2 linked regions of the Homo sapiens genome follow. The protein of the gene in region 1 purifies or fractionates together with the protein of each later gene. This does not show direct contact. Each region holds a gene or a part of one and is shown in the gene's direction. Other genes may lie near its edges. The genes, in order: CROCC and CEP152.

Region 1 (9,440 bases):
GTTAGAAGAATAATAATATCCTTACTAATTTCACTAAGTGCCAGATACCATTTTAAGCAATTCAGTTCTCTCATTTAACTCCATGATAACTCTGTGACATAGAAGCGGTTATCTCCATTTTGTGGATGGTAAACTGAGGCACAGAGAAGCCATGTCACTTGCCCCAGGTCACACAGTTAGCAGAAGAGCCAGGATTTGAACCCAGACATTCTGCCTTCAGAGTTAACCTCTTCACCACTGCGCTGCTTACCTCTCAGGGACGTGATCGATGATGATGTTTAGTAGACTGTGGTGGAGCATGTTATTCTTGTTTCTGAAGGTCCTTGGGGAGATGTGTCAGGCACTATTTTAAGCACATGTGAAGTTTGTATCCTTAAAACAGGCCGGGCGCAGTGGCTCACGCCTGTAATCCCAGCACTTTGAGAGGCCAAGGCAGGCAGATCGCCTGAGGTCAGGAGTTCCAGACCAGCCTGACCAACGTGGAGAAATCCCGTCTCTACTAAAACTACAAAAATTAGTCAGGCGTGGTGGTGAGCACCTGTAATCCCAGCTACTCGGGAGGCTGAGGCAGGAGAATTGCTTGAACCTGGGAGGCAGAGGTTGCAGTCAGCCAGGATCGCACCACTGTACTCCAGCCTGTGTGACAGAGCAAGACTGTGTCTCAAAAAAACAAACAATGTCACGAGGTAAGTGTTACCTCATTTTGCAGATGTGAAAACGGAGGCCCAGGGTCATGGAGCTAAGCGGTAGTGGGCTTGGTTGCCCTGTGGCTCAGGCTGTTTCTCTCCAAACTCCTGCCTCAGGCCTGGTCCCCAGCCCAGCATCTCGCTGGCTACAGGAGGTTCGGGGCAGGAAAGTGACATGGGCCACCCACCCACCCTTTGTCCCACAGCCATAGACAACTAGAGCAGCTGGAAGGGAAGCGCTCAGTCCTGGCCAAGGAGCTGGTGGAGGTGAGGGAGGCGCTGAGCCGCGCCACACTGCAACGGGACATGCTGCAGGCCGAGAAGGCCGAGGTGGCCGAGGCGCTGACCAAGGTGGGTCCCTGTCTGCTGCACAACCACAAACCTACCTCTGACCCCCAGCCCCAAGCCTTGTCACTCTGGCACAGACTGGTCCCAGTGTCAGGCAGACCTCTGAGCCTGGTCACAGACTGACCCCTTCCTTCTGGATACAGGCTGATCTTTGTCACAGGCCACAGACCTCTGGACCTCTGGTCCCAGCCATAAGTGGACTGACCTCTCTTTATGGCCGTATCCCTGCTCTTCTGGATGCTCCTGGGGGCAATGCCTATAGCTCAGGGTCATCCAGTGCCTGAGACTCAGCTCCTGGGGTCTGAGAGTTGTGGCCACAGCGCAGAGGGTCCTTGGCAGGGGGGCCTGCGCTGTCCGCTGCAGCCTGGGCTCTGAGCAGTGCTATCCCTAGACCCTACTCAGGGGATCCTCTGAACTCTGGCCCTGCCCTGCAGCTTGAGCTATTTTTGCACAGCTCTGTGGTGTGTGGCTTTTAAATGGCTCATAAGCAGCAGGCTTTCTGCGGTGATTTTTTTTTTTCCATCTCACACTGTGTCCCCTCCTTGTCTCCCCTACCCTGTCTCTGAGGGTCCATCTCTCTGGGTCTCTTCTTGGGCCTCCTCACCTCCTCCCGACCTTTCTGCCTTTCCTCATTTCTCGGGGCCTGACCCTGCAGGCTGAGGCTGGCCGCGTGGAGCTCGAGCTCTCCATGACCAAGCTGAGGGCAGAGGAGGCCTCCCTGCAGGACTCCCTGTCCAAGCTGAGCGCCCTCAACGAGAGCCTTGCTCAGGACAAGTTGGATCTGAACCGCCTTGTCGCCCAGGTACGCTGTGCACCTGCGGGCCCACCTGCCTTGCCCACCCATCCTCCCCACTCAGTGAGGCACCCCGGGCCCAGCCCTGTACCTGTCTTGGCCCCTGCCTCCCTTTCTGTCCCTGGTTCTCTGTCTGTCTCTGGTTCTCTGTCTGTCTGTCTATCCCCTCTAGGCGTCAAAGCACAGAAGTTCCATGGGCCCTCCTCATCTCCCCCTCCCCAGTGTCCCATACACCCAAGGGCACTGTCCCTCATTCCCTGGGAGCCTCCCCTGGGCTATTGTTGCTGGTGGGTGGGTGGAGGAGGCGTCCTGGTCCTGGGAGGGACGCCCTGCTCACGAGGCCCCACTCCTACCTGGCCTCCAGCTGGAGGAAGAAAAGTCCGCCCTGCAGGGCCGGCAACGGCAGGCAGAGCAGGAGGCCACAGTGGCGCGGGAAGAGCAGGAACGGCTAGAGGAGCTGCGGTTGGAGCAGGAGGTGGCGCGGCAGGGCCTGGAGGGCTCCCTACGAGTGGCGGAGCAGGCCCAGGAGGCATTGGAGCAGCAGCTCCCCACGCTGCGCCATGAGCGCAGCCAGCTGCAGGAGCAGCTAGCGCAGGTGGGCAAAGCTGTGTGTGGGGGTGGTGTGGAGAGCATGTGGGGCAGGCCGGGCTCCCAGCCCCCTGCATCCAGTCCTGGGTTAAGTCACAGGCACTGGAGCCTGCTTCTGGGTTAAATCCAGCCCCACTTCTGCTAGCTGGGGACCTTGGACAAGCTGCCCAATCTCCCATACCTCAGTTGCCCCATCTATAACATGGGGCCAGCCAGGCGCAGTGGCTCACGCCTATAATCCCAGCACTTTGGGAGGCCGAGGCGGGTGGATCACCTGAGGTCCGGAGATCAAGACCATCCTGGCTAACACGGTGAAACCCTATCTCTACAAAAAATTAGCTGGGCGTGGTGGCACGCGCCTGTAGTCCCAGCTACTTGGGAGGCTGAGGCAGGAGAATCGCTTGAACCCAGGAGGCAGAGGTTGCAGTGAGCCAAGATCATGCCACTGCACTCCAGCCTGGGCAACAGAGCAAGACTCCGTCTCAATAATAATAATAATAATAATAATAATAATAATGATACAGATTAATAATAGGTGGAGACTTTTTAGAATTGGAATCTTAGACTTTTGGGAACATCACATCTGGAAGAGACCTTAATGTTTCAGGGATCCAGGGACCTTCATGCAAGGTCTATCCTGGAGCGCCTAGGTTTCTGGGAGGGGCCTCTAGAGGATGGGGTAGGGGGTGCAGGAAGCAGGGTGCAGGTCTCCACCTTGAGGCCTGCCGAGCAGCTGCACTTGGGTCTGGTTTATATATTCAGCTTCTCTGCAAGTTTAGAGTAATACAAGGGTTCTGTTACTCCCAGAGCTGAGTGAGGGCCCTCATTTTTTTTGTTTCATTTTGTTTTGTTTTTGTTGTTGTTTTTTTTTCCAGACAGAGTCTTGCTCTGTTGCCCAGGCTGGAATGCAGTGGCACGATCTGGGCTCACTGCAACCTCCGCCTCCAGGGTTTAAGCTGTTCGCCTGCCTCAGCGTCCCAAGTAGCAGGGACTACAGGCGTGCACCACCACGCCCGGCTAATTTTTGTATTTTTAGTAGAGACAGGGTTTCACCCCGTTGGCCAGGCTGGTCTTGAACTCCTGACCTCAAGTGATCCACCTGCCAAAGTGCTGGGATTATAGGCACGCACCACCGTACCTGGCTGGGCCCTGGTTTTTGTACACACGTGCATTGCAGATCTAGAGAAGGTCATGACTTGCCCAAGTACATGTAGCACATCAGGGCAGACCCTGGGCTCAAACCCAGGCCTTCTGCCAGGACTGGGTTAGGCCCAGAGTTGGGGTGCTGCACGATGAACAAGCTGGGGGACGCTGGGAGTGCTACTCAGTCTCTGGGTGGGGGCCAGCTCTCCCGGCAGCTGAGCGGGCGGGAGCAGGAGCTGGAGCAGGCCCGGCGGGAGGCCCAGCGGCAAGTGGAGGCGCTGGAGCGAGCGGCCCGTGAGAAGGAGGCGCTAGCCAAGGAGCACGCTGGCCTGGCTGTGCAGCTGGTGGCTGCGGAGCGTGAAGGCAGGACCCTGTCAGAGGAGGCCACACGCCTGCGGTAAGGCCTTGGGCTCTGCCCAACCCGCCCTGGGGGGTCCTCCTGGGGCCACACCATGACCAGCCACACGCAGGCACGGGCCCCCAGGGGCAGTTACTAAGGAGTCTGGCTTGCCGACTCGTCCTAGCTGTGGCTCAGGCTTCCCCAGGGAGTGTGGGCCTGGCCAGGCAGGTAGATTGGCACTTGGCCCATGCCTGGCCACTCCCTGAGATCCACAGTTTCCTGGGGCCAGGGAGGCTGAGTCCCAGGGCCTCAGGGACTGTATGTGCTGCAGCTTGGAGAAGGAAGCCCTGGAGGGCAGCCTGTTTGAGGTGCAACGGCAGCTGGCCCAGCTTGAGGCCCGCCGGGAGCAGCTGGAAGCCGAGGGGCAGGCCCTGCTGCTGGCCAAGGAGACCCTGACTGGTACGAGGGGCTGGGGACTTGGGGGGAACACCAGGTTCCAGCCCAGACTGCAGCCTCCCAAGGTCTGGGGTCTCACAGAAGTTGGGAGCACTGGAGTAGGAGTCTGGCTGGCCTGGGTTCCAGTCCTGTGCCACCACTTAGATCTCACCTTCCCTTGAGCAAGCCCCTTTCCTCTCTGGGCTGCAGATTCCTCAGCTGATGATTGGAGGTGGCAATGCCCACCTTCTAAGCCTGTTGCCAGGATGACGTGGGAAAAGCGTGTAAGGCCGTGGCACGGTGCCTGGCTGAGTCAACAGTAACTGCCGTTCATCGGTCATCAGGCCTGTTAGTCTGAGTTCTCTGTGCTTTTCAGATGACTCTCTTGGCCCCAGAATCCCAGCCCCACTTCCCTGCACCGTTCCCATCCAGTCTCTGAACTCAGGGCTTCTTTCTGCTCACCTAACATTAACTAAGCACCTACTTGGGTCATGGAAATTAATTTTCCTGTCCATGTACACCTGAGCCAGACAGAACCAGGAAGGGAAATGCTGGTGGGTTTCCAACCCGGGAGATGGTTTTTAGATGGTAGCTATACCATTTCCATTCCCTGTAGTCATTTCCATTAATATAAATAGTTAACGTTTGACGGGTATGTTCATGTCAGTCATTAAAGGAGATGCTTTATGTGTAGCTGTGCAGCTGTGGGAAGTTGCTGCTGATCTCTGAGCCTCCATTTCATCATCTGTTAAATGGGGATGAGGATAAACTACATAGGCATGTTATGAAGACAAAATGAGGTTATGTCTAAAATACTTAGCTGGGCGCTTGACCCATAGTAAGTGCTCAGTCAGGAATAGGGTTGTTTTTTGTTTGTTTGTTTTGAGACAGAGTTTCACTCTTGTTGCCCAGGCGGGAGTGCAATGGCACTATCTCGGCTCACCTCAACCTCTGCCTTCTGGGTTCAAGCGATTCTCCTGCCTCAGCCTCCCAAGTAGCTGGGATTACAGGCATGCATCACCATGCCTGGCTAATTTTATATTTTTAGTAGAGACGGGGTTTCGCCATGTTGGTCAAGCTGGTCTCGAACTCTTGACCTCAGGTGATCCACCCGCTTTGGCCTCCCAAACTGCTGGGATTACAGGCATGAGCCATCACGCCCAGCCTGTTTGTTTTTTGAGACAGAGTCTCACTCTTGTTGCCCAGGCTGGAGTGCAATGGTGCGATCTCGGCTCACTGCAACTTCTGCCTCCTGCATTCAAGCGATTCTCCTGCCTCAGCCTCCCAAGTAGCTGGGACTACATATGCCCGCCACCATGCCTGGCTAATTTTTGTATTTTTGGTATAGACAGGGTTTCGCTGTGTTGGCCAGGCTGGTCTCAAACTCCTGACCTAAGGTGACCTACCTGACCCAGCCTCCCAGAGTGCTGGATTACAGGCATGAGCCACTGCGCCCGGCCTATTTGTTTTTTTGAGGCAGAGTCTCACTCTTGTTGCCCAGGCTGGAGTGCAGTGGTGCAATCTCAGCTCACTGCAACTTCTGCCTCTTGGGTTCAAGCGATTCTCCTGCCTCAGCCTCCCTGAGGCTGGGACTACATACGCCTGCCACCACGCCTGGCTAATTGTTGTATTTTTAGTAGAGACAGGGTTTCACCATGTTGGCCAGGTTGGTCTTGAACTCCTGACCTAAGGTGATCCACCTGCCCCAGCTTCCCAAAGTGCTGGGATTACAGGCGTGAGCCAAGGCACCTGACCTAGGGTTGTTATATGTTTGACATCCGTCCCATTTGGGAGGCCTTCTCATCAGTCATTTTATGCCTTTAATGCCATTCTAGGTAGGCAGGAAAGGGGTCAGGGCCAGTGGGCCCATGTAGCATATAGGGAAACTGAGGCCCAGAGAGGGCAAGCCACTTCAAGAGGACCCAAACTAGATGCCAGGCAGGCCCTCTGCCTCTGGGATTTTGCCCATGTGGCTCACCTGGCCTAAGTCTGCTGGCCCAAGGAAAAGTTTCAACCCAACCCTGCCCTTTCCCCCATTCCTCTCGTGCAGGGGAGTTGGCGGGCCTGCGGCAGCAAATAATAGCTACACAGGAGAAAGCCAGTCTAGACAAGGAGCTGATGGCCCAGAAGCTGGTGCAGGCTGAGCGGGAGGCCCAGGCCTCTCTGCGGGAGCAGCGGGCAGCTCACGAGGAGGACTTACAGCGACTCCAGCGTGAAAAGGTTCAGGCAGCTGGGGAGGGGTGGGCAGGACTCTGAGCCAGTGTTTCATCATCGTTCTTGCTCTGCCTCGGTCTCTACATCTGTGAAATGGGACTTCCTCTCTGTTGTGGAGGTCCTGGGGACAGCTAGGAGGACTGGGGGGATGGGGAGGTTGTGGTTCTTATTAGACATGCAGATTCCCAGGTCCCAAATCTGGTCCAGCCCTGGTAATCCTGATGCAGAGGGTCCACAACCACATTTGGGAAATACTGACCTAATGTACAGCAGGAAAGCACTTTCATTTGCTAAGAAGTACTGTTTGCATATGAAGAGCCACTCAGACCTCAGCATATAGAAAGGCAAGGGGCCAGGGAAGTTACTAGAACACTGACTCTGGGTTTGAATTGCCTGGGTTTGAATCGAATCTTGGTCGCTTACTGGTGATGCTACCCAAGGTGTCCGTGCCTTCATTTCCCCACCTGTAGAAATAGGGATAGGATAGTGAAAGGTATTGAAGATGAGCTGAGACCATCTGCATAGAGGGCTTAGCATAGTGACTGGTACTTAGCAAATGCTCCATAAGTTATGATTGCTGGCACTGACATGCTCTCCAGAGTGGCCCTCGGGACAGGGGCCCTCAGCCACCAAATCCTAGACAGGGCTGCCTCTGACAGAGGTGCAGGCTATGACTGCATGGCTCCAGGGCATGCCACTCACCCTGCAGTACCCCTGGCCTTGGGTGGTTGTTACCACGCTTCTCCAGGAGGTGGCGGTAAAGCTCTTTTTTTTTTTTCTTTTTTCTTTTTTTGAGACGGAGTCTTGCTCTGTTGCTTAGGCTGGATTGCAGTGGCGCAATCTCGGCTCACTGCAACCTCCACTTTCTGGGTTCAAGCGATTCTCCTGCCTCTGCTTCCTGAGTAGCTGGGATTATAGGCGCGCCACCACGCCTGGCTAATTTTTGCATTTTTAGTAGAGACGGGATTTCACCATATTGGTCAGGGTGTCTCGAACTTTTGACCTCGTAATCTGCCCACCTCGGCCTCCCAAAGTGCTGGGATTACAGGCATGAGCTACGGTGAAGATCTTAAAGAAGGGGCGGTTTGGCCGGTCGTGCTGACTCATGCCTGTAATCCAGCACTTTGGGAGGCCGAGGTGGGCAGATCACCAGGTCGGAAGATCGAGACCATCCTGGCTAACACAGTGAAACCCCATCTCTACTAAAAATCACAAAAAATTAGCTGGGCGTGGTGGCACGCGCCTGTAGTCCCAGATACTTGGGAGGGTAAGGCAGAAGAATCGCTTCAACCTGGGAGGCAGAGGTTGCAGTGAGCCAAAATCTCGCCACTGCACTCCAGCCTGGGTGACAGAGCAAGACTCCGTCTAAAAAAAAAAAAAAAGAAGTGGCAGCTCTGTCTGCTTCTCACAGAGTTGCTAGGGGCAAGTGCTGAGGCAGGCACCTGCCCTCAGGCTCCCCAGGTGGGCTGCTATTTGCCTGTGGGCTCTGCCTGCCCGCCTGTCCAGTCCCCAGGGATCTGAACTCCTGTGACCTCCCCCTTGCTCTTCTTGCCCTTTGCATTGCCTGGCTTGGCCTCATTAATGTCCCCAAATCTGTGTTCTCTCCAGCTCCTCTGGCAACCCCTGACCCCCTTCATTCCTCACAGCCAGTCCTAACTCCCCTCCATCCCAACCCCAATCCCTCTTCCACAGCTGTCGGAACATCCCCTAAGCTAAAAATCAGATTGCTCCTTGTCACCTTGGCTCGAGTCCTCTCTCCCACTCCCCTCACTGTCCTTAGAATCCCCATGGCCCACACGGCCTGTCCTGGCCCCACCCCTGCCTGGGGCTCTGGCCCTGTGACTCACCATGTCCCGTTCCCCTCTGCACCCTGCATCCTCTAGGCCTTTCCAGGGGCTGTGTTCTTGGCCTGGGGTGGTCTTTTCTCTCCTTACCTGGCTGACAGTTACTTGTCCCTCCGCAGGGGACCATGTTCGGACCCCCAGGCCAGCCCACTGCTGCTCCTTGGCACTTTCACGGCCCTGGCGTGTCCCCGTCATAGCCCTTATCACTCCCTTGTATTTACCTGGTCACCCTCCATCTCTGAGGGTATGGGGGCCAGATGGCTCTTGCTGCCCTGATGTTTTGGGGGGTCTGCCTGGGCCCCCTCCTGGTGTGTCACAGGCATCCGGTCCTGGCCCCCTAGGAGGCAGCATGGCGGGAGCTGGAGGCCGAGCGGGCCCAGCTGCAGAGTCAGCTGCAGCGTGAGCAGGAGGAGCTGCTGGCCCGGCTGGAGGCTGAGAAGGAAGAGCTGAGTGAGGAGATTGCTGCCCTGCAGCAGGAGCGCGACGAGGGCCTCCTCCTAGCAGAGAGTGAGAAGCAGCAGGTTCGTGAGCCCTGGCATGGCCTCTGCTGCTCTCTGAGCTGCTCCAGTTCTGGGGCCGGGCCCTGCTCTGCCACTTGGCAGCTAGGAGCCCTGGGGCAGGCCACTGCCCTCTTGGGGGCCTCAGTTTCCTTACCTGCAGGAGGGGAGGATTAGAAGGGGGTTCGTGAGGCTTTGCTGTGCTCCATGCCTGGCACACAGTGAGCACTTACTGAGTGACAGTGACAGTCGTGACACCAGGAAAGCTGTTCCATATTCTCCCATGCCTCGTCCCACCCCACGCTGGGCATGGATCCTCATGGCTGCCTTCTGAGCAGTCCCCACGATGCCCACAGGCATCAGCTGACGTGTCCCCCCAAATAACAAATCCCTAACTTTCCTATAATGTAACGGAGACAGGGCAGACTGTGCCCATCTCCTCTCCTCACCAGCTGTGTACCTGGGCGAGTCACTTTACCTCCTTGAGCCTCAGTTTCCTCATCTGTAAGATGGGTAGAAAGAAAGACTCTGCAGTCAGGGTGCTGTGGCGGG
Region 2 (15,729 bases), on another chromosome or scaffold:
TTTTACATTCATGGAATTTGAGTAGCTAAATCTGCATGCAGCTTGCAGACAGCTTCCTCTCTCCCTTATTATAGTTGGCTGCTAAGCTCAAATAATAAACATTTAACAAGTGGAATGCCTTTTCCCTTTGGTCTTCTCAGCAGGCTTCATAAGGGACTACAGTTTATTTGGATTTAGGAGAACTGACTTCCATGGGACTCAGTAGTGAGCCTTTTTCAGGATTGGTCACTACCACTGATTTTTTTCCCCTTTGAGGAAAGAAGAGAAAATTATTTTAGCAAGCACTTTCTCTCTCTGACTTGGCTCCCTCTAGGAGTACAGGATGTGCTATTTCAGTGGTCAGCATTCAGTAAGAAAAGAAATTGGGGATGCATAATTTGTTAACCGAGCAAAATAATCATTCTGCTTAAGGTTAGTTCACCATGTCTTATGGCACAGGAAGTTATATTGTAAAATATTTTATATTTCTTGTAATTTATATTTTCTACTTCAATGGAAATAGAAGTGGTTTAAATGAGATCTATGTATATAGACAGACTACTTACAAAATATATATATATATTACATATACAAATTTGCATTTTGTATTGCAAAAGCTCCTTTTATAACATTAAAAAGCCTACCTAATAGTTTGTTCATTTTCTCTGTCTCGCACACCCATACACACAGACACACACACACACACACACACACACACACAATATTCTAAGATTTTATTTGGAATCATCTAAAACTGAAGAACAGTAAACATTTTAACTCAGGTAGTATTTTTGTTTCTAATAAAGGTTTTTTAAAAATATATTTTTGGAACAGTTTTTAATTTACAGAAAAATTTGTATTACGCAGAGTTCCTATATACGATATGCTGCACCCATTTTTCCCTACTAATACCTTATGTTAGTATGGTACATTTGTTACAATTAATGAGCCAATATTGGTATATTATTATTAATTAACATCCAGGGTTTATTTACATGCCCTTGGTTTTTATTTAACATACTTTTTCTGTTCTGGGATCCCAACCAGGCTACCCCATTACATTTAGGGGTCATGTTTCCTTAGATTTCTCTTGACTTTACTTGTTTTTGATGACCTTGACAGTCGTAAGGAATACTGGCCAAGTATTTTGTAGGAAGCTTGTCTATTGGAATATGACGTTTTTCTTATGATTACGTTTTTCTCATGGGTTTTGTGGAGAAAGACCACAGAGACTTTCATCACCTCATCTTAAGGGCAGATACTGTCAACTGTTTATTTCTTTTCAAAAGTAACTTAATCCTCCATTATGAAAAAATTAGAAAATACAGACTAAAAAAGAAGAAAATAGAAGTCACCAATAATCTCACCTTACTTCCCATGAAGAAAACCACTTTTATATTTCAGTATAAAACTTCCACATCACCTGTTTTGTATGTTTCTAAAAGATAAAATAATATTGATAATATTTCTTTATAATGTCATTTTACTAGTATATTCTGAAATCTTTGAATATTAGTGAATATTTTTATAGATTACTTTTAGTGACTATGTAGATGAATGAACCAGTTTAGCTACTAAATCGCTGTTTAAAAGTTTTACTTATAAATAATGCAATATCATTGTTATAAGCATCCTTGTAGTCAAGTCTTTATTCACATCTTTGATTACTTCCTAAAGAAGTAGAATAATTGTCTTGCTAGAGGGTGTGCACTTATTTGAGGGCTTTGATGCATATTACTAAACAGCCCTAAAGTTTACATTATTACCCACGTCCTGAGGCTGTCCCTATTTCTTGGTAACCTAGCCAGTATTGAGAGTTATCACTTTTCCTGTTTATAATTTTTATATAGTTAGATCTGTCACTGTTTTCATTTATGGTTTCTTGATATTTAAAAATAAGGTATTTCTCTAGTACTTTCTATAGTTTTATTTTGCTTTTTAAATCTTTCAAATTATGAAATATACCATATAAAAAACATGGAACATAAATATATAGCTTAATGAATTATTTGAAAGTGAATATTCGTAGGACCACCACCCAGGTCAAGAAGTAAATATTGCCACGAGCTGCCCATATTCTTTCTTATTGTAACCTTGAGGCTAACTACTATCTTATCTATTAGGGCAATCATTTTCTGTTTTTTTTTTCCCTTAGCTTTTTAATACCCAGTTATTCACACCTAAGCACTACAGATTATTAGATTTGCCTTCATATGAAGGAAACTCATACGTTAGGTGTTTGGGTTTTCTTTTCTTTTTTTTTTTACTGTTTTATTGAGATATTATTTCACATACCATAAAAGACACCCACTTAAAGAATACAGCTCAGTGGTTTTCCGTATATTCACAGAACTGTGCAGTCATCACCACACCTAATTTTACAGCATTTCAACATCCCCCCAAAGAAACTCCATGCCTATTACCAGTCATTCCCATTACCTCTTCCTGCCTCCACAGCTCCAGACAACTAATCTACTAATCTACTTCCTGTCTCTATGGATTTGACAGCTCTGTGCATTTCATATAAATAGAATCGTATAATATGATCTTCTGTGAATTTTCTTTACCATTTCTTCTCAAGCATGTCTGCTGCTGACAGAGTCTGTTTCCTTTTATGAAAATATCCTTATATTTGTTTATTATACAATTCCTGACCAATTGTTCTTCTATTTCAGCACATTAAAGCTATGTTGGTCCACTCTCTCTGGACTCAATGGTTTCTGTGAAGAAATTCATTGTTATTTGAATTAGTGTTTCTGTCAGTAATGTATAGGTTTTTCTTTTGCTGCTTTAAGAATTTTTTTCTTTATATTTAGTTTTTGGTACTTTGATTATGATATGTTTAAGTGTGTTTTTCTTTAGTTTATCTCATTTTGGGTTCTCTGAGCTTCTTGAATATATAAATTTATTATGTCTTTTACCAAATTTGTGAAAATGTCAGCCATTAATTTCCTTAAATACCTTTTCTGTCTCTGTGTCTTTGTTCTCTCCTTTTGGGTCTCCAGTTACATGTATGTTAGATTTTTTGATATTATACTACAGTTTCTTGAGGCTCTGTTCATTTTTTTCTATAGTTTTTCCCTTTTTATTTTGCATAATTGCTACTGGACTATTTTCAAGTTCACTCCTTTTTTTCTTGTCCTCTATACTCTATTGAGCCTATCTAGTGAAGGTTTTGTGTGTTTTTATTTTAACTTTTGTTTACTTAATAACATTTCTATTTTGTTCTTGTATCACTTTTCTTTCTCTGTTAAGAATTCCTGTTTTTTTTCATTCACTTCAAGTATCTTTTTCTTTACTTCATAAAGCAGAGATATAATAGCTACTTTAAACTTATAAAACTCTTTTAGTGACAGTTCCAGCATTTGGATCATTTGTTGATTGTCTTTTAAGATTTGGCCACATTTTTCTGGTTAGTTGCATGTCAAGTAATTTTAGATTATATACTAGACATTGTGAATTTGTATGAGTGTTTTAAATCTGTTTGGTTCTCCAAGCCTTTGCCACATTGCTTTGAATCCAACCTGTGTATGCATCCCTTCGGGTTTAGTCATTGTGAGACTTGAATGTGTGGTTTAAATTTCAGTTAAGTTTTTAAAATCTTTGATATGCTGGTTTGAGGGTTGCCCTGTACATGCATAGTTCAGGGCTTAGACTGAGGCTTGTACAAATTTATACACAGAATTCAGGATTCCTTTCTCTGGTTCTTTTCTCTCCGGGAGTCTTCCTACACTCTCTTTTTATCACTGGGTTTCAGCAATCTGACATTGGTGTGATGTATGCTGGTTTTCTTTGTGTTTATTCTGCTTGAGATTCACCAAACTTCTGGGTTTTGTGGGGTTTTCATTTTCATCAAATTAGGAAAAATTTGGCCATTATTTTTTCAAATATGTTTTCCATCCCTCTCCTCTTCTGGGAGTTCAGTTACACATGTTGGAAAATGTAATATGTTCTGTGTATTTCTGTTTTAGTCTTTTTTATCTTTGTTTTTAATTATATAGTTTTATTTCTATATCTATGTGTTCACTGATCTTTTCTTCTGCAGTTTTAAATATGCTATTAACCCCATCCAGTATATTTTACATTTCAGATATTATAATTTTTTCTATAAGTTTAATTTGAGTCTTTTCTGTATCTTCCATTTTCCTCCACATATTCATATCTTCCTTAACCTTCTAGAACATATGAAATATATTAATTCTATTGTCTGTGTCATTGATGGGTTAGTTTCTATTGATTGGTTTTTCTCCTGGTATGGTTCATATTTTTTTCCTACTTCTTTCTATGCCTGATAAATTTTGATTGAATGCTAGACATTTTGAATTTTGTTTTGGATGCCAGATATTACTGTATTTTTAAAAATACTGTTGTACTTTTTCTGTGACACACAAGTTACTTGGAATCAGTTTGATCCTTTCAAGGCTTTCTTTATAGGCTTTACTACATCAGGTTTAGAAAAGGCTTTAATCTGGGGCTAATTTTGCCCCACTACTAAGGTATTATTTGATGCCCTTTAAATTAGGAAGTCTTTGCATTATGGCTCATTGAAACATAACATATTCCCAGCCTTATTCATTTCCTATGTTTTTTTCCCTAGCCACTCATACAGAACAGATCTCCAGAGCTCTTTTTCTGTGCAGCTTCTTTTTCCCCAGTATTTCTTCCCTTCATATTCTAGCCACTCTGGACTCCCCAAATTCTGAATTCTTTCTCTGAAACTCAGTGAGATTACTGGGCTCTGTTTGGGTTTCACCTCCCTGTGCTATGGCCTGGACACTCTCCAGGCAGAAAGCTGGGGTAATCTTAGAGCTCACCTTGTTTGCTTTCCTTTTCTCAGGAATCCCTGGCCTGTGCTGCCTGTTGTCTAGTGATTGAAAACTATTATTTTATTTGCTTTATTTGGTTTGCTAGTTTTTTAAGGAGGAAGATAAAGGTTAGTCTTGTTAATTCATTACGGCAAGGAAGCAGATAATCTCTCAATCTTTAAATTTATTGAAACTAAAATTGGGTTTAAATTAGCATGGTTTTATTTTTGTGTTTTTCTAGTTACTCAGATATTCACCCAGACTTGTGTTTTAGTAAGTTGAAAAAAATAACAGAAATTGTTGGTTAGGATGGCTAGTGTTTAGTATTCTTTTCTTCCTTAATATTTATGTTGTTTCTGTTAGAGTCATAAAGGGCATGTATATACAGCATGCAGTTTTCCAATAACACAAATGTAAATTATGTCAAAGTTCACATTTCTAAGCTACTTACAGTGAGCAGCAGGACTAAGCTTGAGAAGGCTCTTCCTGTGAATAAACGTATTTCTGTATATAGAGACATGGCAAAGGTGATAATCCTTGTGTATGACAACATTTAAAATTGTTTTGAAATACTAGTATATAATTGTATAGGTGACAAAACATGTTCACCACTGTGGTCAGTGCTTTTAGGGAATAACCATGTCTGATTTATTACTTGATTTAATGTTAAAAATCACAATTTCTCCATTAGCATTGTACAAGAAGAAGACCCAAATGAAGAGCTTTCAAAAGATGAGTTCATTCTGAAGTTAAAGGCAGAAGTACAGCGTTTGCTGGGTAGCAACTCAATGAAGCGTCATCTGGTGTCTCAGTTACAAAATGACCTCAAAGACTGTCATAAGAAAATTGAAGATCTCCACCAAGTGAAGAAGGATGAAAAAAGCATTGAGGTTGAGGTATGTAAAGCCTATAGAGTTAAAAAACCATTTTTAAAAGGCTCAATAAAGAAAACTTTTACACTTTTTTTTTTTTGAGACAGGGCGTCACTCTGTCTTCCAGGCTGGAGGGCAGTGGTGGAAACATGGCTCCCTGTAGCCTCAACCTCCCAGGCTAAAGCGATGCTCCCACCTCAGCCTCCTGAGTAGCTGGGACCACAGGCGCACGCCACTATGCCTGGCTAATTTTTAAATTTTTTGTAGAGACAGGTTCCCACAATGTTGCCCAGGCTGGTCTCAAACTCCTGGGCTCAAGCAATCCTCCCACCTCAATCTCTCAAGGTGTTGGATTACAGGTGTGACTAACCACATCCAGCCCTTTTACATGTTTTTAAATTAATAAACCTTTGGCTTTCAGGAGTTTATTTGACATTTTTAGAAATAAAGTTTAAAGAAGGAAATGCCATTTTTAAAGGGATACTGACAGTCCCTGACTTAGGATGGTTTGACTTACAATTTTTAGACTTTACAGTGGTGGAAAAGTTATGTGCATTCAGTAGAAACCATATTTCAAGTACCTGTAAAACAGTTCTGTTTTTTACTTTCAGTACAGTGTTCAATAAATTTCATGAGATATTCAACAGTTTATTATAAATGAAGCTTTGCATTAGATGACTTTGCATAACTGTTGGCTATTATAAGTGTTCTGAGCACATTTAAGGTAGGCCAGGCTAAGCTATGGTTTTAATAGGTTAGATGCATTAAATGCATTTTTGACTTAATGATATTTTCAACTTATAATGATTTTATTAGGTGATAAACCCATTGTAAGTTGAAAAGCATCTGTATGTTTTTTCTGGTTACTCTTGGCACCTAGTAAATGAGATACCAATTAGGTAAAATTCCTTTACCATAAATACAAGGAAGTATTCTCTGTAACAAGGAATCTGCATTTCTTTAAGATTGGCTTTTACCAATAGTGCTCTAAAATCTAGTTAAAATAAATCCTCCATAGAAATCCTGTAGTATTTTCTATGAGATTTTCCTGGCCCATGTTCTTACAACAAAAGTCATTCTATATGAGGACATTAATTATATAGTGATGATGGTACAGATATTATATAGTGGTCGTGGTACTATGGGAAAGTACACAAAATCTGGTTTTGTCAGTCATTGAAATCCACCTCTGTATTCTTCAGTTCGGAAAATGAAGCTGGAGCACTTTGTGACACTTTTGAATTTACAGAGCCAATTTCAGACAAATTGAAACTAAACACATGACTAATAAGTAAGTCAAAGATATTTCTGTAAGATCATGCTATCACAGAGATCTTTAGGGCTGCTCTCCTTTATAGATCCTTTTTTTTACCCTTCCATATTTCACAAATCATCAGCCATCTATACTCCCAATAGAAAATAATATATAAAACACCTAATAACTAAGAAAAGCAAAAGAAGAGGGAAAAGGAATGTGGGTAGTATACTCCTTTTCCTCCTGGGTGGAGATAATTGTTTACTTCCTTCTTTAGTACTGTTTTATCTCCTATTTAAACTAGGAGTTGTGTTCATTAGAACAGTTCTGCTAAAGTATGTATAATATTCTGTGCTAATTATTGTGGAATTTTGATTGTGGTTAATTTTTATATTTTGGAAAAACAGTGTTTTTGCTATCAAAATCTTTTCCAGCCTGATTCCCTCTTCTGAGTAACTACATTTGATGACTAAAACATAGATTTTAATATTAACAGCAAATGAGAGAGACTCCTCCCCGCCCTGCCCCCTGCACATTTAACATCTTTAAATCAAGCTGTTTTCATTGTTGCCCTACATTTCTTTAAAAGGATGGGAATGAAAGCTTGTTTCTCAATTTGCATTAAGACATTAGAGTTTATTAGTTTAAGCATTTTGGTGGGAGTGCTCTAGGATTTAGGATACTAGAAACCTGATTTTGAGTCTGAACCTTAGCTCAGATATCTTGGTGCTTTCTTTGTTCTGTATTAAACTTGCTAATGGCATTTGCTATACAGATACACTTTATCATGTGTAGCAGTAGATAGTGGTCATGCATTGTACTGTTTTTTAGCCTTCCCATTTTCCTCTGTAGTCTGGTTGATCAATAGATCAAAGGAATAACTATCTCATCTTTGAGTATTCTTTTTGTCCAGCTACTCTATTGCCATAGTGAATTCTCGGTAGTGTACATCTAAACTCCAATTTTTCTCAAAGTTACTTCAGCTGTGGACTCAAGTGATCTGCCCACCTCCACCTCCCAAAGTGCTCGGATTACAAGGATGAGCCACTGTGTTGTGGCAAAGAGCTCAGAGTCCAGGTACACAACAAGTGAAACGGAGTAGATATATTTTTAAAATCTTTGTAACCCCCATCAATGAATAAAAAGAAAAGTAGATAAGGAAAACTCTCAGAGGAAAATATGCAAAGTTAAATGAACAGATAAATCTGGGAAGGTGGAAAAACAAATGAACAATGAAGGTATATAAGAGGTTCCACTTTGGTGGTGACACAAGAAATACAAATGAAAGCAATTGTTAGATATTCTTTTCCCATCAAAGATAATTATTTAAAGATAATCACTGCCATTGGAGGCAAAGAGAGATGGGCAGACCCATGTACTACCTGACAGTATACATTTGGATGACATTTCTGGAAGGCAATTCGCCAAAGTCTATCATGAGTCTTAAAAATTGTATGTATTGAATAAAATATATGTCCGTGAGTGAATGCTGACATAAATGAATACATACAGAAATAGAATAAATGCTTGATCTTAGTAGGAGAACATATGATGAGAAATAGGATATTTGTATTGTCTCAAAGTATCCTATAAGATACTTATCATTTATTATAAAACAAAAAATAGTAAGTTTACAATGGAGATGACAGATCCCACCTTCAATTGATTATTACCAGTGGTGAGACATAGTGATATCATGTGTCTCCTGCAAAGAGCACATATCAGTTCTTGACATGCATGCCAAAGATGCATAACCTGATTTTAATAAACCTAAAAACTCCAAATTGAGGAACATCCCACAAAATAACGGGTTAGTATTCTTAGAAAACATCATGGGTTTGAAAGACTGAAGAGCTGTCCTAGATTGGAGGAGACTAATGAAACATGACAACTAAATGCCACTCAGAATCATGGATTTGATCTTGGACCAGAAAACAGACATTTGGGGCAAATTGGAGACATTTGTATAAGGTCTGTAGATTACTTGATAGTATTGCATCTGTGTTAATTTACTAGTTTTGATGATTGTGCTGTAGTTATATTGGGGGAAGATGAGTAAAAGCTATATGGAGATTATTTGTACTGTTTGCAATTTTTTTAAAGTATGGAAGTATTTCAAAGTGAAACTTAGAATTTTTTAAAACTTGTAAAACTTTTGACCTTTTAATATTCAGACTAAAACAGATACCTCAGAAAAACCAAAGAATCAATTATGGCCTGAGTCTTCTACTTCTGATGTTGTCAGAGATGATATTCTGCTGCTTAAAAATGAAATTCAAGTTTTACAACAACAAAATCAGGTGATTAAAAATATTTTTTATATTTTATGAGAATTTTTATTTCCTCATTAAATACAAAGGATATAATAGAGTTTTTGCAAATAAAGAGGCAATGTGAGTTAGTAGACAAGTATATTAGCAGGTGATTATGAGTTCCAGTTACTTCCCTTTGCTAGTGAACTGTTGGTTAGTAGTTTCATTGGAAGGTAAGTTAGTGTAGTTCCAGTTCTCTTTCTCTATGGTAGCATGGCTGACAGAGGTATTCTTTCCTCCTTAGCCAGCTCTTGACCCAGAAGTAAAACTTTGCTTATTTAGATGGTTGCTGAAGATTATTGAATTCTGAGACTTATTTTAAGGCATCAGCTAGCCAATACTTCTCTGGTTAAATATTTTCATTTTATATATTTCAAAGTAAATACAAAATTTAAACGTTTAGTCCTGTCAGAAAACTACTTGTCAAATAAATGAATCTATGTTCTTATCAAAGCGTGAAGAGACTTTTTCTTTTGCAGAATTGTAAAAATAATATGTCAAATATTGTTATAGGGGAGAGAGAAAGCATAGAAAATATTAAAAAATAAGACAAAATCAATCAGTGAAAATGATGTTTATTTTCTGTAAGTACTAAGTTTATTCTTTTGTGTCTAGGAACTTAAAGAAACTGAAGGAAAACTGAGAAATACAAATCAAGACTTATGTAATCAAATGAGACAAATGGTACAAGATTTTGACCATGACAAACAAGAAGCTGTGGATAGGTAAGGTCTATATAGATGCCTGACGACTGTCTCCTGGGTACCCTTCCCCTCTAAGTCCCTGCCCTTCCCTGTGACAAAAAGATTCAAAATGATTGAGTGATTTCTACCCTGTTGAGATCTTGGATTGGCAGAGATGAGTCCCTGGCTTCTCAAATTAGAATTTGGAACACATTTTCCATAGAAACAGTGTTATGTAGTGGGTTGGGTTCTATAGTATCATTGAAACTGTAGTTCACTGAAATATTATAGGTTAATATTTTTTTAAAGACTCGTCTGGGAAACTATTCTTTATAAAGAAAAAAGTCTGTGAGAGGGAATATGTCTTCCAAATACCAAATCATAAACTTGGAAACAGACTTCTGGAACATAACTTACTTGTGAGTTGGGGACTGCTAGTATTTGTGTTTAATATAGATGACTTGAAATTTTGGAGCCACACCCTCAATTATTGCCATTAATTTTTTATAAACAGAAGTCCTCAACATAGATTACTATCTCTATTTGAAGGACTGGGGCAGTCTCACATCCAAGTTTCTAATTGTTCTCTAGAAACATTTGAAGAAAGAAAATTTTGAAGATTCTCATAAGATTGTTGGTTATTAATTAATTATTACCACTTTCAGTTGGGGAAAAGTTATCTGACCTCAATTATAATTTGCATTAGAGGGAAGAGGTGAGGAGGAAGGAAGGAAACCAATTCATTTTGGTGTTCGTAGTGAGACTGGGCATTGCCTTTGATTCCGCTCTGTTTCCAGGTGTGAAAGGACTTATCAGCAGCACCATGAAGCCATGAAAACTCAAATACGTGAAAGCCTATTAGCAAAGCATGCTTTGGAGAAGCAGCAGCTCTTTGAGGCTTATGAGAGAACTCATTTGCAACTGAGGTGAGAATAAAGAGTTTAGCTGCCTTTTAAGCTGTAGAGACTACATTCCCCTATTCCATAATTTAGAGGAAAATTGTTTGTTATGCAGCTCTTGTATTTTTTTGTGGTTAAATCATTTAGTTGCTGGTTTTGTGTATCCAAGGTCTGAGTTGGATAAGTTGAATAAGGAGGTGACTGCTGTGCAGGAATGTTACCTAGAAGTGTGCAGAGAGAAGGATAATCTAGAATTGACTCTCAGGAAGACCACTGAAAAGGAGCAACAGACTCAGGAGAAGGTACAGTACAAGTTTATGTTGTATCGACATCCTTTCACTCTTCAAGCCTCAGTATTATCATTTAAACGAATACATTTGTTCTAGAGAAGTGAATGGAGAAGGTATTCATATGTTCTCTTTACTTTTGGCTGTATCACACTCATATAGCTCACAAATAAAATACAGTAATTACTGAAATGATTATTAAAACCTTAATGTACAATGGCATATAGATAGGAGAAAGTGATTTTTTTTTTCTTGCAGATTTATTCTAAAGGGCAAAAAAAAAAAAAGGATCAGTGTCACTTTAAATCTGAAAATCACAGATCCTCATTTTCGGTGTTGACTGTTCAGGAAACCCTATGTAGTCCTGTGAGCGCTGCACGGAGCATTCGTTCAGAGCCCTTTTTCTCGGATCCATTTCTTTCTCACTACCTCATTGTCATTTTATTCTTCTGGGGAGAAGAGTAGGAATTTGAATGTTGGTCTCGTGATAGGGAAAGTGATGATATGGAGGATATGGACAGCAAGGTCAGCATCTTCGTATGACCTCCTTCAGGGAAGCTGGAGGGGCTAGAGTAGATTCTCCAACTCTGCCTGATTCTTCTGAGTCACTCTTGGTGAGTGTCCAGGAGTAAAATCACATGTAAACAGTCACACCTCCTCTTTTCTTCCCTGTCCTGGCCCAGTGCCTTAACAGGCCTGACTGTCCTTCACACTTTGGACCAGCGGCAAACCACAGTTTGAAAGCTATCTGCCTCAAGATTAGAAAATATTTTTAAATGCTTAAATAAATGTTCTATACAGAGGTTTTTGAATAAGTTATGTTAAAGCAAGCTATTACTACCACACACTTAAAAAGAATAGTAAAGAGCAGGCGAGGAATTCAGTTCATTCAATATCTTGATTATTGTTGAATAGATTAATATGGTGAAAAATGTGCCATGTATACATATCATCTAGTGGAAAAAGAACTTCTAAAGGGAGCTGTTTTAGGTAGGGATGGCAGTATAAAAGTGAGAAAGGATCTTATATTACCTTGAAATTGAGGACTTAGCTTTCAGTAATGTTTTAAAAATTAAAATAGGGAAATCACTAGTGTGATTCTTTTATATGTATAAAAATTGGCGGCCGGGCACAGTGGCTCACGCCTGTAATCCCAGCACTTTGGGAGGCCGAGACGGGCGGATCACGAGGTCAGGAGATCGAGACCATCCTGGCTAACACGGTGAAACCCCGTCTCTACTAAAAATACAAAAATTAGCCGGGCATGGTTGTGCGCGCCTGTAGTCCCAGCTACACGGGAGGCTGAGGCAGGAGAATGGCGTGAACCCGGGAGGCGGAGCTTGCAGTGAGTCGAGATTGCGCCACTGCACTCCAGCCTGGGCGACAGAGCGAAACTCCGTCTCTCAAAAAAAAAAAAAAAAAAAAAAAAAAAAAAAAATTGGCAAGAACATAAGAGGAATTTTCTCAAAGAGGTCATTCCAGGAATATTTTCTGATACTTTTAATAGAATCAATTTGACTATAAAATATGATCTCATATAATGGGTCAGTTACAATTAGTATCTGCTATTGACTGATATTTTGGCTCATGAGTGTTTGTACACAAGTCCAAGAAGAAAAGTTAAACTGCTATTTGATCCTTCAAAAAAAAACCAAACTTAGAGGTTAAATTTTTCACGTGTATCCCAAAACTTAAAGTATAATTAAAAAAAAATTTTAATTGTTATACAGTAAAATTGACTTCCTCCCACCACTGGGCGTATAGTTCTATAAACCTTTAACACGTTTATAGTTTTGTCAGGATACAGAACAGTTTTATCACCCTAAAACGCTCCCTTTTGCTATCTTTTTGTGGTTACACTCCTCCTCCAAACCCACCCCTCACTTAAAGGGCCAGTGTACTTAAAGCATTAGAAGTTTAATTTCTTCCCTCTCTGGGAATTCATTAGTTTTTTACTATAGAATTATATAAGCCCTTAGTAGTATAAGCCAGTCAGAACTGAAACATCTTTATATTTAGGAGACTGTCTAATCTTCTCACATTTTTCAGAGGTAGGCAAAAATACACCTTTTTTTTTTTTTTAAAGGAAATGTTTCACATACATGGGAGAATGTTACTAAACTCTAGAACAAGTGAGGGCACTTCTGGGGTAGCTCTTCCATGCAGGACATAAGCCATTTTACTGCAGCTTAGCTTTAGGTAGGGAATTTAACCTGGATACAGAATATATGAGTCAGGTAACAATAAGAGTTAAAGGGTGTTTTTTTATGTTTCATGCATTGTTTTCTGAAACACTTGCTGAGTCAGGTTGCAGGTTAAATAGGAGCTCAATTCCAAGTTTTAAAGCTTTTAGTAGCACACAGAACTTTCCTCACATGTTAACCTGGCTCATTGAGAGAAAGGGGGAAAAAATCATATACACGGAATCCTTCAGGTTGGGTAGTAATCAGTGAAGCCTATGAATTTGCAGACAAGGCAAAGATGGTCAACATTCCCATTCCTGATGCCATTTCTATGCACATTAAGGCTTATTTATACAATTGTAATATGAGTTAGGTAGGTGCATTTTAGAAGTTAGAGGGATTTTTTTTGCTATCCAAGACACGCACAACAAGTTCATGTTTTAACTTGGAGACTGTTAGTGTTGTAGAGAGATGTTTATTTGAATTTTGTTTAAAGAGACAGCTATTGGAGGAAAGAGAAGAATATGTAAGCAAACTGCAGGTGGAACTTGAAAAAAAGTACCAAGATACACTTATGATGGAAAAGAGCAAGTGGCTGAAAGATCAAGAAACTGATATTAAACAGCAAGTTGAAAGTGAAGTGATCTTAGCCAAAGCACATTGGGATAAGGAAGAGCAAGAGGTGTGGATTAAAATTTCTTTCTGGTCACCACATTTTTAAAATGTGGTACTAACTTTAGAAGACAATTCTTCTTGAACCAGATACGTAATTTTTATTTGCCAGGCACTTACATAATCATCCATTTTACCTTTTGGAATTGAGCTATTAGCAGTTACCACACCAGTTTTATTTTTAGGAATTTAGCCACCTCTTGACTTTTCGACCCAACTCAGGATATAACAAGTTTTTTGGGCACTTCTTTGATTCCTCAAAATGAAACCATGATCTGATTTCATATTGTGGAATGATTATAACTCTAGACTAATATTTATAACTAACAAATAAGCCATATCATGGATTAGAAACAAAGAAGTAATGGGCAGTCTCAGAAGCCCATAATTTGTTACCTCTATTACTTAAATAGCAAATGAGATTAGGAAATGCTAATAGTTCCCTAGCAAGTTAGGGAACAAAGTATGATCCTAAAAGCTTATTTAGAAATGAAAACAAAAAAGAATTCTCAAGCTTATTTAAACTAAATTTTTTTTTTCCTTTTTTGAGACGGAGCCTCGCTCTGTCTCCAGGCTGGAGTGCAGTGGTGTGATCTCGGCTCACTGCAACCTCCACCTCCCGAGTTCAAGTGATTCTCCTGCCTCAGCCTCCTGAGTAGCTGGGATTACAGGCAAGCGCCACCACACCCAGCTAATTTTTATATTTTTAGTAGAGATGGGGTTTCGCCATGTTGGCCAGGCTGGTCTTGAACTCCTGACCTCAGGTGATCCGCCTGCCTCAGCCTCCCAAAGTGCTGGGATTACAGGCATGAGCCACTGCACCTGGCCTCAACTAGATTCTTTTATCTACAAAATGGCTATTAATTGCTATTGATCTGGTAGCCAGGGAAACAGTAGGAGAACTTCAGATACCCAGGTGGTGAACAGAAAAAGGGAAAACCAAATTGTGCAGTTTCATAGTTTTGCCTAAGACTGTGTTTAGCTCCACCTCACTGTACTGTTAAAGTGGAAAAATCATTAAGATGTTCTTCCAATAATACTGCCTCCCTTTTGAATGTAGTCTACTTAGTAAAATTTAACACTATAACAAATAAGATTCTAATGTGTTCAAGTGAGTAAAACTATTTTTTAGATTGTTCAGGTTTTGGTTCGTTAATTAGATTTACTCGGTCCTTTGTGGAGAGCATGGTGTTGATGGCAAAACACATTAACTGTAATTTTTTTTTTTTTAAATCCTGCCATCTTTGTAGTGGCAATAGGAAAGATTCCAGAAGGTTGGATATTAAGAGCAAGATATCCTGACTTTACACAACATACTTAAATCTTTCATGTGATTTTTGTCATATAGTTAAGTTCAAAGAGTAACTTTCAAGTTTTACTTGAGAGTGTATTTTAATTGACTAAATTTCTAAACCTTTTATAATTACTACAACAATATCTAGATGGTTTTCAAACACAGCTGTGGTTGCTTTTCTGGCTAGCTTTTAATTCTAGTTTTTACTTATTTGAAAATTGTTCTTCTCGTATGATTTTTCTTCTGAAAACAGATCAAAGAAAAACTCATTCAACAGCTTGAAAAGGAGTGGCAGTCTAAGCTGGATCAAACTATAAAGGCAATGAAAAAGAAGACCTTAGATTGTGGCAGCCAAACTGACCAAGTAACCACCAGTGATGTTATTTCCAAGAAAGAGATGGCAATTATGATAGAAGAGCAGAAGTGCACAATCCAGCAAAACTTAGAACAAGAGAAGGACATAGCCATCAAGGGGGCTATGAAGAAAC

Evidence for each region.
Region 2: the proteins of CROCC (region 1) and CEP152 purify together in Homo sapiens (co-immunoprecipitation; 2 studies listed by IntAct). This does not show direct contact.

The regions. Positions count from the first base shown.
Region 1 is NC_000001.11:16,944,570-16,954,009, forward strand, and holds part of CROCC (rootletin), read left to right. Parts: intron 1-892; coding exon 893-1,037; intron 1,038-1,689; coding exon 1,690-1,836; intron 1,837-2,191; coding exon 2,192-2,422; intron 2,423-3,761; coding exon 3,762-3,955; intron 3,956-4,229; coding exon 4,230-4,357; intron 4,358-6,383; coding exon 6,384-6,553; intron 6,554-8,732; coding exon 8,733-8,912; intron 8,913-9,440. UniProt on the Homo sapiens protein: Major structural component of the ciliary rootlet, a cytoskeletal-like structure in ciliated cells which originates from the basal body at the proximal end of a cilium and extends proximally toward the cell nucleus.
Region 2 is NC_000015.10:48,762,438-48,778,166, reverse strand, and holds part of CEP152 (centrosomal protein of 152 kDa), read left to right. Parts: intron 1-5,475; coding exon 5,476-5,680; intron 5,681-6,877; exon of another isoform or gene 6,878-6,947; intron 6,948-7,994; exon of another isoform or gene 7,995-8,882; intron 8,883-9,085; coding exon 9,086-9,211; intron 9,212-9,838; coding exon 9,839-9,948; intron 9,949-10,703; coding exon 10,704-10,832; intron 10,833-10,974; coding exon 10,975-11,107; intron 11,108-13,771; coding exon of another isoform or gene 13,772-13,996; exon of another isoform or gene 13,997-14,282; intron 14,283-15,494; coding exon 15,495-15,729. UniProt on the Homo sapiens protein: Necessary for centrosome duplication; the function also seems to involve CEP63, CDK5RAP2 and WDR62 through a stepwise assembled complex at the centrosome that recruits CDK2 required for centriole duplication.